2 separate regions of the Homo sapiens genome follow, and region 1 is linked to region 2. The links come from fine-mapping of genetic effects on gene expression. A gene starts in region 2. The other region holds a variant in brackets. All regions are shown on one strand. Distances are between the middles of the regions. Region 1 overlaps CRADD (CARD and death domain containing adaptor protein). Region 2 holds the start of CRADD (CARD and death domain containing adaptor protein).

Evidence for each region. PIP is the estimated chance that this variant, and not a neighbour inherited with it, causes the effect. A credible set is the group of variants that fine-mapping cannot tell apart.
Region 1: its variant is the best candidate, but not a certain one, in a credible set for the expression of CRADD in monocytes after interferon gamma (Fairfax 2014, PIP 0.63).

Annotation. Positions count from the first base shown.
Region 1 is chr12:93,835,079-93,840,463 of GRCh38, forward strand. All of the region lies in intron 2 of CRADD (CARD and death domain containing adaptor protein), which reads left to right. Among named protein-coding and RNA genes, the nearest start is that of CRADD-AS1, 100 kb to the left of the region's middle. The variant G/C (reference allele first, on the strand shown) is at 2,428.
Region 2 is chr12:93,674,702-93,680,086 of GRCh38, forward strand. CRADD (CARD and death domain containing adaptor protein) reads left to right here and starts at 2,674. Exons shown (of 3, transcript NM_003805.5): 1 at 2,674-2,771; 2 at 4,068-4,371. The coding sequence starts at 4,074. RefSeq lists enhancers at 1,915-2,730, 2,519-2,758, 2,731-3,545, 4,362-5,176.

The DNA.
Region 1 (5,385 bases), 160 kb after region 2:
ACTGCTGATAGCTTTATTTTATGCATTGCACTGACTAGATTGTCAAGACTTTTCAAGGAGGGCTCCTGAACGATGAATTTTTTAGTTTTTTTTCATGTTCAAGAATATCTGATGATTACCTTACCTTTATACTTCAATATCATCCCTAGGAGTAATATTTATGCACTATACTTTATTCCCCTTAGAATTTTGGAGGAATTGTTTCTTTATCTTTTGCATTTAAAATACTTTTGAAAACAATGACTGACTTTCCCCTCATTGTAGGCAACTTGGCTTGTTCTGCTTGAAGAATTATTTCTTGGAACTGGAAATTTAATTATTGAACCAGGGTACATGTTTCAGTTAATTGTTTCATATTCATTTTTTGTAAAAACGAAGTATGCTCTTTTGACTTAGAGCTCTGTTGCTTGCTCATTTTAGGGATATTTTCTTGTATTGGATCTTTAAACACTTTGGCCTGGGTTCTCTACTTCAGGAATACTCATTAATCTTTCTGATGGATTATATTTTTTCTCCTCTATGTCTATCATTTTTCTCTGTAAGTTTTGCCTTTTATCTTGATGACCTGAAGGCTTCCTAGGATATAAATAATTTTGAGCCATGTTAATTCTATTCCTTGGTGTTTCTCACTTATTAGTTTATTCCTTGGAGATTGTAGATTTTTGGTTTTGGCCCATTTTCTTCCACATAATGCTCTATTTTTAATTCATGTGTTACTCTGATATGTTACTCACTTGCCATGCTGTTTCATTCCATCTTGCATATGTTTGGGTGACTGTGGCCTTTGGGGCTCTGATCCACTGGGGTGATTTCTCCTTGACACCCTTCTGACCCCTGTGTATTACCCCTTGAGGACCAGGTATTTCCTGTCCTGTTCACTTTTCTTCAGGCTATAGGCACATGTAAGCAAAAGAGCAGGGCAGGAAAGTGAGCTCACCAAGTTGTTTACGCGTAGGCCACCCTATAATGCCTGTGCTGTGCAATCTCTCCTGAGAACATGCAGAATGTCTTCTCATTCTGCCAGGGACAGTTAGTTCTCGTTGTCCACATTTTTTATCTCCTGTCGCTTCATGTAGCAGTTACCATCTCCACTCTGCTGAAATTAGAGGAGAAAAAAATGTAAGAAACCCACTTAATTTTTTCCTCTTTAGATTTGGGGATAGTAGAGTGAATCTCTTAGAGTTGAGTTTGGGTGAATAATTGATAGAGCTTCAGGAAGGTAGGAATTGGAAAGTGGCTCTGCCATCTTTTTTGATGGGCTTCATTTTTATTTTATTACCTTTTCTTCATTCCCTTAGGTGTTAGGGGATGGAGACTCTGGGGTCAGGCCTCACTCTGCCATATTTACCCAGAAGCCTTCTTGGGGCTTGCCTGTCTTTCTCTTTTCAAATGAAACATGGATGTGGGAAAGGGGAGTTCATTGTAGCCCAGTTTGGCATAAAAAGAGGTAACAGCCCACATCTAACCTTGACAATATTTTACCATTATGGAGTTTCCTCTCTTTTTAATTTTCTGTTCACCCTCAGATTATGCAATGTAATTTCTCTGGTTTTAAATACAAAGTAAATTAAAAGTAGAAGCACTTGGTAATACTGTAGCTATAGAGAATAAAGCTAAGTGAGTATGTTATCATTGTAATGAATCATTCCTTTTCATTCATTCACTCATCCAGCAAATATGTAGTGAGTGCCTACTATGTGCAAGGCACTACCCTGGGTGCCTGGAGTACATCACTGAGCAGGATGGACAAAGCTCCCCTGCCTGCGAGACACTTACATTCCAGCAGGCATGAGTGTGTAGGGTTGGGGGCAGGCAGCGACAGTAAATACAGCACATCTATAAAATATATCACACGTTACAAGGTGATTTATGGACAAAGGGAATGACAGTGGAATGGGAGTTGCAGTTTGGAATAGGGCAGTCAGGGCAGCTGCCCTGAGAAGTTATATTTGGTGAAGGGGTCAGTGAAAGAGTGTCCCAGGGAAAGGGAACAGCTCGTGCAAGGCTCTCTGGTTCGCAGCTGGCTGCTGTGTTCAAGGAACCGGATGAATGACAAATTGGTGGAGCTGTGTCTGGTCCATGTGAGAGAAATGAATGGCCCAGCAAACTGTAACATTAATTGTTTTTACTGTTTTGAAAATTTACTGTACCAGATATTCATTTCACGTTTTTGTTTGTTTGTTTGTTTGTTTGTTTTTGTTTTTTTTTTTAGAGGGAGTCTCGCTGTGTCGCGCAGACTGGAGTGCAGTGGTGCGATCTGCACACTGCAACCTCCACCTCCTGAGATCAAGCAATTCTCCTGCCTCAACCTCACGGGTAGCTGGGATTACAGACGTGCATCACCACGCCCAGCTAATTTTTGTATTTTTAATAGAGACAGGTTTTCACCATGTTGGCCAGGTTGGTCTCAAACTCCCGACCTCAGGT[G/C]ATCCACCCGCCTCGGCCTCCCAAAGTGCTGGGATTACAGGCATGAGCCACCGGGCGGTTTCCATGTGTGATCTTTAAAAGGCAGAAACAAATAAGCAAAAATCATTACTAAAGGCCCACGAGGGTTGTTTCTATCTTAGAAAATGTGTAAAGAAAAGTGATACAACAATAAATGGTTTGATTTAATGAGAAGTCAAAAATCATAAGATCTGTTGAAAATAACAAAATCACTTCTAAAAAAGATAATATGTTTTATTGAAATAAAGCCTTAGAAGTCATCTGGTTTTACCTTTTACAAAGAAGAAAGCAGTCTAAGAGAGGCCAAATGACTTATCCCAAGCTATACGGCTAGGTAGTAGCAGATTCAAATTTATACTACCCAGGCTTCCTAATTCTTAGCCCAGAGCTGTGTCCACCCTACCACCCACCTTTTAATTCAGTGCGAGCTCAATTATTGCTAACAGTTTTATTGTTGACCTTCCATGGACTCGATAGTCAAATCAAGTCTTCCATTACAATAAATGGGATTTATTTGTATTTTGCAACATAACCTTGTTCTTTGGAGTGGGTTTCACTTAATCATCCTGGAAATCGGTTTTAGAAAGACTAAACATGATTTCTCCATCTCTCTGTGAGGACCAAATTGTTCTCTGTGATTATCTATCAGAACAAGCAGAACAAGGGGTTCTAATTAGTTTTCCTTTTGAGGTTTTTTTTTTTTTTTTTTTCTTTTTCCAGGCAGTCAGTCTCTCAGCCAAAGGGATTTTTCTGCAGAGCCTTTGTACTCAGGGACCAGGGTTAATTCATGAGTCCTGGGAGGTGGCTGATCAGGTTAGTTTTTCCAGCCTGGAACAGCCCCGCCCTACCCCTGACCTCCTCCACTCCACCACTCTACTCACTCCACTCACTCCACTCACATTAGCTACAGAGAAACTGGATGTTGTCAGCCCCAGGGGTACCGTGAGACAGCTGGGTTCAGAGTGACTCTTGACCTTCCCTCTCTCACTCTCTCCCTCCCTCCTTCCTTCCCTTCCTCCCTTGCTTCTCTCTTTCTCTCTCTTTTTTTTTTTTTTCCTTTGCGCTCATCAGTTTATGGTCTACTTCACTAATTGGTCTGTGAAAAGCTTCTTCCTTTTCCATTCATATACTCACTCTTGTTCCCCCTCCCTCTCATAGATAAGGATAACTATTCTGACTGATATGTATTCCTTTATTTGTGTGTGTTTTTGTAAGTGGTGTTTTGGACATACATTCTTTTTTGTTTTTTGAGACAGAGTCTGGCTCTTTCACCCAAGCTGAAGTTCGATCAGTGACACAATCAGGGTTCACTGCAGCCTTGACCTCCCTGGCTCAGGTGATCTTCCCACCTCAGCCTCCCCACCGAGCACCTGGGACTACAGGTGTGCACCACCACACCTGGCTAATTTTTTGTATTAATTTTTTTTTTTGTAGAGATGGAGTTTTGCCACATTTCCCAGGCTAGCCTTGAACTCCTGAGCTCAAACGATCCACCCGCCTCGACCTCCCAAAGTGTTGGGATTACAGGCGTGATCCATGGGTGCCCGGCCTGGACATATATTCTTAATTTGCATTTGTATAGACCTGATTCTTTTCCTTACATTTTTTGCTCTCCACTGCATTTAGTCCATCCCCTCTAACTCTGCCAGTATTCCCTATGTGCTGTTTTGTATTTCTATATCTCTTCCCCCAGCAATGAGCTTTTAGATTGCTTCCAACTCCTTTCTTCCGACAGTATTACCTCATATAAACAACCTCATAGTGACCCCTCATGGATCTGTGTAGGAATTTTCCTGAGATGGAGATATCTATACCTATATCTATATCTCCCAAAAGAGGGTTTCTGGATTATAAGATATACGTGTATTTGCTAGCACAAATAACGAAGCTTTACACAAACAACCTAATACATGTCCCTTACAGGTCTTTTTTAGAACTTTTCTTGGGTACGTCTAACAGAACAAGATTGGAAAGTACATTCAATTTTACCCACACTGCCAACTTGCTGGCCAGTACGACTGTCCGATCTTTATTTCCATTGGCGGTGAACAACGTTCTCTACATCACGTCCCAGCCTAAGCTTGGTATTGTCTAGATTTCTATACATATAAAGTGCTTTATCATTGTTGTTTACATTTGTTTCTTAAATTTCTGCATTTGAGCATCTCTTTATGTGCTCGCTTTTGTGTTTCCTCTAATTCGAATCACCTGTTCATACCTTTGTTCTGTTTCCTGTGGAGGTTCTTACCTTTGCTGTTGGTTTTCAGAAACACCTTACCCAGCCTAGATAGTGTTTCCCTTATTGGTCTTAGACATTAGCCTTGGTCTTAGACATCAGCTTGGATCACGTCTCCTTCATTGAGCAGAAATCCGTAATTTTGATATAAAAAATTTACCTTTGGGAGATTAATTTTAAAAACCACTTCTGACCACAGGCCATAAAGATACTCCTGCCTTATTTTCCATGAACTTTATAGTTTTACCTTTTACCTTTGGGACTTTATCTCCATGGGATCCACCACTGTTCATGGTGTGATGCTCTAGGCCAGTTTTCTTTTCCTCTGTAATTAGCTAGTTCTCCTCAGTTTGGGGAAAGCCTCTTCTTTCCCCATTATGGAATTTTAATTGTCACAATAGGAATTGGCATCTTTATATTATAACAATGTCATCCCATCTAGCACAACAGGGACTCTCCTTTTAGTCAGATCTTGCTTTATGTCTTTTAATAAAGGCTTAAAATTTTCCCCATGAAGGTCTTATACAGTCTTTATTAACTTCATAGATCCTTTATCCTTCTCATTGCTTATTGTATTTTTATTATGTTTTGTATTTGATTATTGTAAGAGTGTTGAAATGCTGCTTTGTAGTTTTTTGCTTTAAGTTGATCTTGTATCTGGCAATTTTGCTCAGTCCTCTTACTCTAATAGATTATCTGCTAAT
Region 2 (5,385 bases):
GGTTGATGATCCCTTACCCAACATGCTTGGGACCAGAAGTGTTTTGGATTTTGGATTTTTTGGGATTTTGGAATATTTGCATATACATAATGAGGTAACTTGGGGATGGGACCCAAGTTTAAGCACAAAACTTATGTTTCATATATACTTTTTATACACATAGCCTGAAAGTAACTTTATACAATATTTTAAATAATTTTGCACATGAAACAAAGGTTTGTGTTTTGACTGAGACCCATCACATAAGGTCAGGTGTGGAATTTTCCACTTGTGGCGTCATGTTGACACCCAAAAAGCTTCAGGTTTTGGAGCATTTCTTTTTCTTTCTTTTTTTTTTTTTTTCTGAGACAGGGTCTCTCTCTGTCGCCCAGGCCGGAGTGCAGTGGCATGATCTTGTTTCACTGCAAACTCCACCTCCCGGGTTCAATTGATTCTCCACCTCAGCCTCCTGAGAAGCTGGGACTACAGGCGTACACAAGCATGGCTGGCTAATTTTTTGTATTTTTTGTAGAGATGGGATTTCCCTATGTTGCCCAGGCTGGCCCTGAACTCCTGGGCTCAAACGATCTGCCTGCCTTGGCTTCCCAAAATGCTGAGATTACAGGTGTCAGCCACCACTCTCAGGCAGGTTTTGGAGGATTCTGGATTTCAAATTTTTGTATTAGGGATGTTTAACCTGTAAACTTCAACGCTTGGCAGTGTTGCAAGTGGTCTGCACTTTATCTGGATGAAGACAAAGAATGGTGCTAACATTTGTCTATGAACAGATGGGAAATCTTGCTGAGGAAAGGACAATGATTCTCAAGCAAAAGGGGAAAAGGGAGAGAGAAAAGAGAGCACCTGGAACTCAAGAGTATCAAGAATGGGAGGTGGCAACAGGATGATTTGCAAATAATATTTGGCTATCATTAGAACAATAAACTCTTCACTATACAAGGTTGTATGGTGTATTGGAAAGAGCATGAAATCAGAGAAACTTCATTAGACTTCAAGTTTTGCTCTATATTAGCTGTGAGATTTTGCCTAAGACAATTGACCATTCTGATTCCACAGTCTTTATACATGCAAATGCTAAAACAGTTGTAACAGTGGAGATACATTGTGAAAAATGTGTCATTGTGCAAACAAAATAGGATGTACTTATGCAAACCTAGATGGTATAGCCTACTACATACTTAGGCCATATAGCATAGCCTATTGCTCTGACCACCATCATATATGCAGTCTGTCATTGACCCAAATATTGTTATGCAATGCATGACTGTAATAATAATAATACTTGCCACATAGGTAAAAATACTGTCATTAACGGTGTAGTAAAATGGTAACTGGCATAGTAATGCTGTAAATTGAATACAATTTTTAGAAGGTTTTGAGGAGGGAGGTTCAGAACTGTTCTCCATTGATTTGCTTAACAAAGATATTTTCATTTTCCACCAAAGGGTTTGGCTGTGAAAACCTTTGCAGAAATAATATTTTAGGAGTTTTTTCCCCCTGTACTGTCAACTGATTTTTAGTAAGCATATGACTTTCTGTATGTATCATCCAATTGATTTAAAAATGAATCAATGAATGTATTTATTGATCGCCTGCCTCGCTTCACAAAGGAATGTGAGGAAGGACACCCAATTTGGCATTGCTGTGTTTCTCTGTATTTGGGTCATGCATTTTTTCTTGCTTTCCACATTGAAAATGTGGTGGATGCAGTAGATTGGCTTTAAGTGTCAGGCCTTCCCTCATTTACTATACCTTTTTGTGTTTCACAAGCTGGAAAGCTACCAACTACATGCTCTAGACATCCTTGCTGCTAATATTCTGCATGTCAGATTGGTCTCACCAATGGCACGCAGCAAAGCAAGATTTGCAGGTGCTGTTTTCTTGCTGCTGGCAAATGCAGCCGTGGAGACCACCGTTTTTTGCAGCACTGTTCCAGTGTCCTGTTAATTGTTCTGTCGGTGTTGAGAGGAGGTTGGGGACCAGGCATGGCAACTTCCTGACGCCATCTTCCTGATTGTGGGCAGCAGCCACAATCAGCAATCTTATCTAGGTAGTCATCCATGGATGTTCAGCTCAGCCCTTCTCCAGCCTTTCCAATGATTTCGAATGTCCCCAATTCCCCCTAACGAATCCCTTTCTGACTAGGAGTAACTAGCTGAGTGCTGCAATGAAATCCTGACTGACAGATTTGTAAACTCTTTGCGGGCAGGAACCCTTGATATAAATAAATGACCTTGCATTTTAATGGAGGGAAGCAGAAGGATAAACAAATGAATAAGTGAAAAGTTTTAATAAGATGGTGATGCGTAAAAAATAAAGCTGGTTAATGGGGAGTGCAGGAAATGAGCGCAGCTGTCTTGCCGTTTTAATCAGATAGGTCAGAGAAGGCTTCTCTACTAGGGTGGCTTTTGACCTGCCTCTCTGTTAGGTCAATTGTGTGCGAGGCCCTGATGGAGTTACTGTGTTAAAATGCAATGATTCAATTACTCCATTACTTAGATACCCTTTAAGTGACACTACGGTTGTCCATCTCCCCGCTATTGAATTGTTTACCCACAGTAAGCATGGCGGGAAGAGCTTCGATCCGACCCTTGAACGCTCAATAAAAATGGCGACAGCACTTCCTGTACTTGCCCTCAACAAAGATGGTGTCAACACTTCCTGTTTAGGGTTTTCGCCATTAACAAAGATGGTGCTTATGGGGCAGGTTCCCTAACAGTCAGGATTCCGGTTGCAGTTTTTCTCCCCCGCCCCAAAGATACGTGGTTGCAGACGTAAGTAACAGGAATCCATCTTTCTTTGAAAGTCCTGCATTGTAGCGTCTGCGACCTGGGCCCTGCGGGGGCTTCCCCGCCCCGCTAACTTGCTCCGCATTTCCGATCCGGGCCAAGGCTGGGTGGCTGCGGCAGTGCCGGAGGCCCGCTCTCCCCTTGGTCCGCTCTTTAGTTCATTCCCAGCACTCCCTCTTTAGCGGGTCAAGTTGCCGCAGAAACCGCCCGTAGTCTTCCTGTTTGATACAAGGGTTTCAGCGGCCGAAGCAGAGCCTTTTTAAATAGTTCCCAATGGGCGCTCACGGCCAAACGTGAACACCTCCCCTCCTCACCTGTCACCTCCTGAACTTTACAGGGTTGCGAGGGGGAGTGTGGGATCGGGTGTCGCCTAGCCGTGGTCGTACTGCCCGGGTGTGTCTGAAGCCCCATCTGTCATCCCTGCCTGCCTTCCCGGTCACTTAACCTTCACTGCCTTACACACAACCAAGCCACAGCACACTGGTGCAGGGGTGGTGGAACTGCACCTTCAAATCGTGCCTGGCTACTGACCAGTGCTGGGGTGTGTGCTTTTTTTGAAAGAAAAAAATCCCATAAAATGTCCCATGCATGTGCGGCCACGACAGTGTTGTGCTGGAGATTCGGAATTCTTAGTGGGAAGGAATGGAGTCTGTGACTGTATATTGTGTAAAGTTTATTGTAGACTGGGCACAAACAACAATTTTCTTAAAGGTGATCGTGTAGAGGACTTTTAGCGAAAAGAGCCTTAAATTCTGAACCTGCTGATTTCTGTCCTGCACTCCTATTACTGATCAGGTTTTGCAAATACTTGTGATCAAAAAAAGGGGACCTGCGTCCACCTTGGCAGTTTCTGCCTTGGTGGTGGTGGTGCAGGTCTGATGAGGGCAATGTGAAAATAAAACCACCATTTCTTCTCCAGCGTGTTAAAATTAGTGCTGCTCTGTAATCTTCAGATAAAAATTGCTTGTTCAGAAGGGTCTCTGACCCACTTTTTTTTTTTCTTTTTCCAAATTTCTTTATTGAACGAGGAATTGAGCTGGGACCCCATTGTGTGAAAAGCAGAAACAGAAAAGATGATTCATCTTCATTGTTGTTCATTATGTTAGGAAACATTCAAAATTAACCTGGCTTGGCTTAATCAGTGAATTAAATACCATGACCTGGCAGTCTGCTATGGTTTAAAGATGTGCTTGACCTGAAGGAACTTACATTGCAGTGACACTGTCTTTAGGGCCACATCAACATGTCTGTAATTTGAGCTGTGATTTTGGCTCTTTCCAGGGAGAAATGGAGGCCAGAGACAAACAAGTACTCCGCTCACTTCGCCTGGAGCTGGGTGCAGAGGTATTGGTGGAGGGACTGGTTCTTCAGTACCTCTACCAGGAAGGAATCTTGACGGAAAACCATATTCAAGAAATCAATGCTCAAACCACAGGCCTCCGGAAAACAATGCTCCTGCTGGATATCCTACCTTCCAGGGGCCCTAAAGCATTTGATACATTCCTAGATTCCCTACAGGAGTTTCCCTGGGTCAGGGAGAAGCTGAAGAAGGCAAGGGAAGAGGCCATGACCGACCTGCCTGCAGGTAGGCCTCAGAAAGATCACTTTGAACCAGCTCCAAAATGTTGTAACTATGCTCTTTGCTTTTTTGTTTATTTGTTTGTTTGTTTTTGAGACAGAGTCTTGCTCTGTTGCCCAGGCTGGAGTGCAATGGTGTGATCTCGGCTCACTGCAACCTCTGCTTCCTGGGTTCAAGCAATTCACTTGCTTCAGCCTCCCGAGTTGCTGGGAATACAGGCATTTGCCACCATGCCCTGCTAAGTTTTGTATTTTTAGTAGAGATGGGGTTTCATCATGTTGGCCAGGCTGGTCTCGAACTCCGTACCTCAGGTGATCCACCCACCTCCGCCTCCCAAAGTGCTGGGATTACAGACGTGAGCCACCACACCTAGCCAGAACTATGCCCTTTGGATTTGAAGTTGGGATGTAAGGCAGGACAAGGGTCAATGGTTGATGAAAGTGGGTAAGGATTTGGGACTGAAGGGACATGACGTTGGAGGAATAGGATCAGGAGGTGGCATTAGGAAGTGCAGGGAAGGAAGAATGAACCGTGACTGGGAGGTGAGGGAGGGAGCTCAGAGAATGCATTTAGAAATGCTTCCAGGAAACCTGGCATGTCACTTGGGAAGCATGTTCTCATCAGAGAGCCAGGTCATATCTCAGCCGTTGGCATCAGGAGCCATTTGGAAAGTGCAGATGGGAAAGCAGGCATTCGGCCTACTGACAACTGATTTGTGAGGTGCCAGAGCTACCAGCTGGAAAAGGTCAGATTCATGGAGGAGGAGACAGCCTCTAGGAAGGCATGCCCTGCACCTGTCCCCTGGGCTGTCCTGTGTGGCCAAAGGGGATTATTTTGAAGGCTGACTTAGTTTGTTTTTAAAGGTTATTCGTTTAAAGTGTCCTTTTTAGTTTAGCTTTGTTCAGACACTGGAGTATTTAATTTTGCAAAGAGCAATAGTTTGGGGAGGGTCTCAGTTTAATTTGAAGGAGAATTGGAAGCTGGAGAAGAGAGAAACAGTTCTGGTTCTGTTAGCCTGGC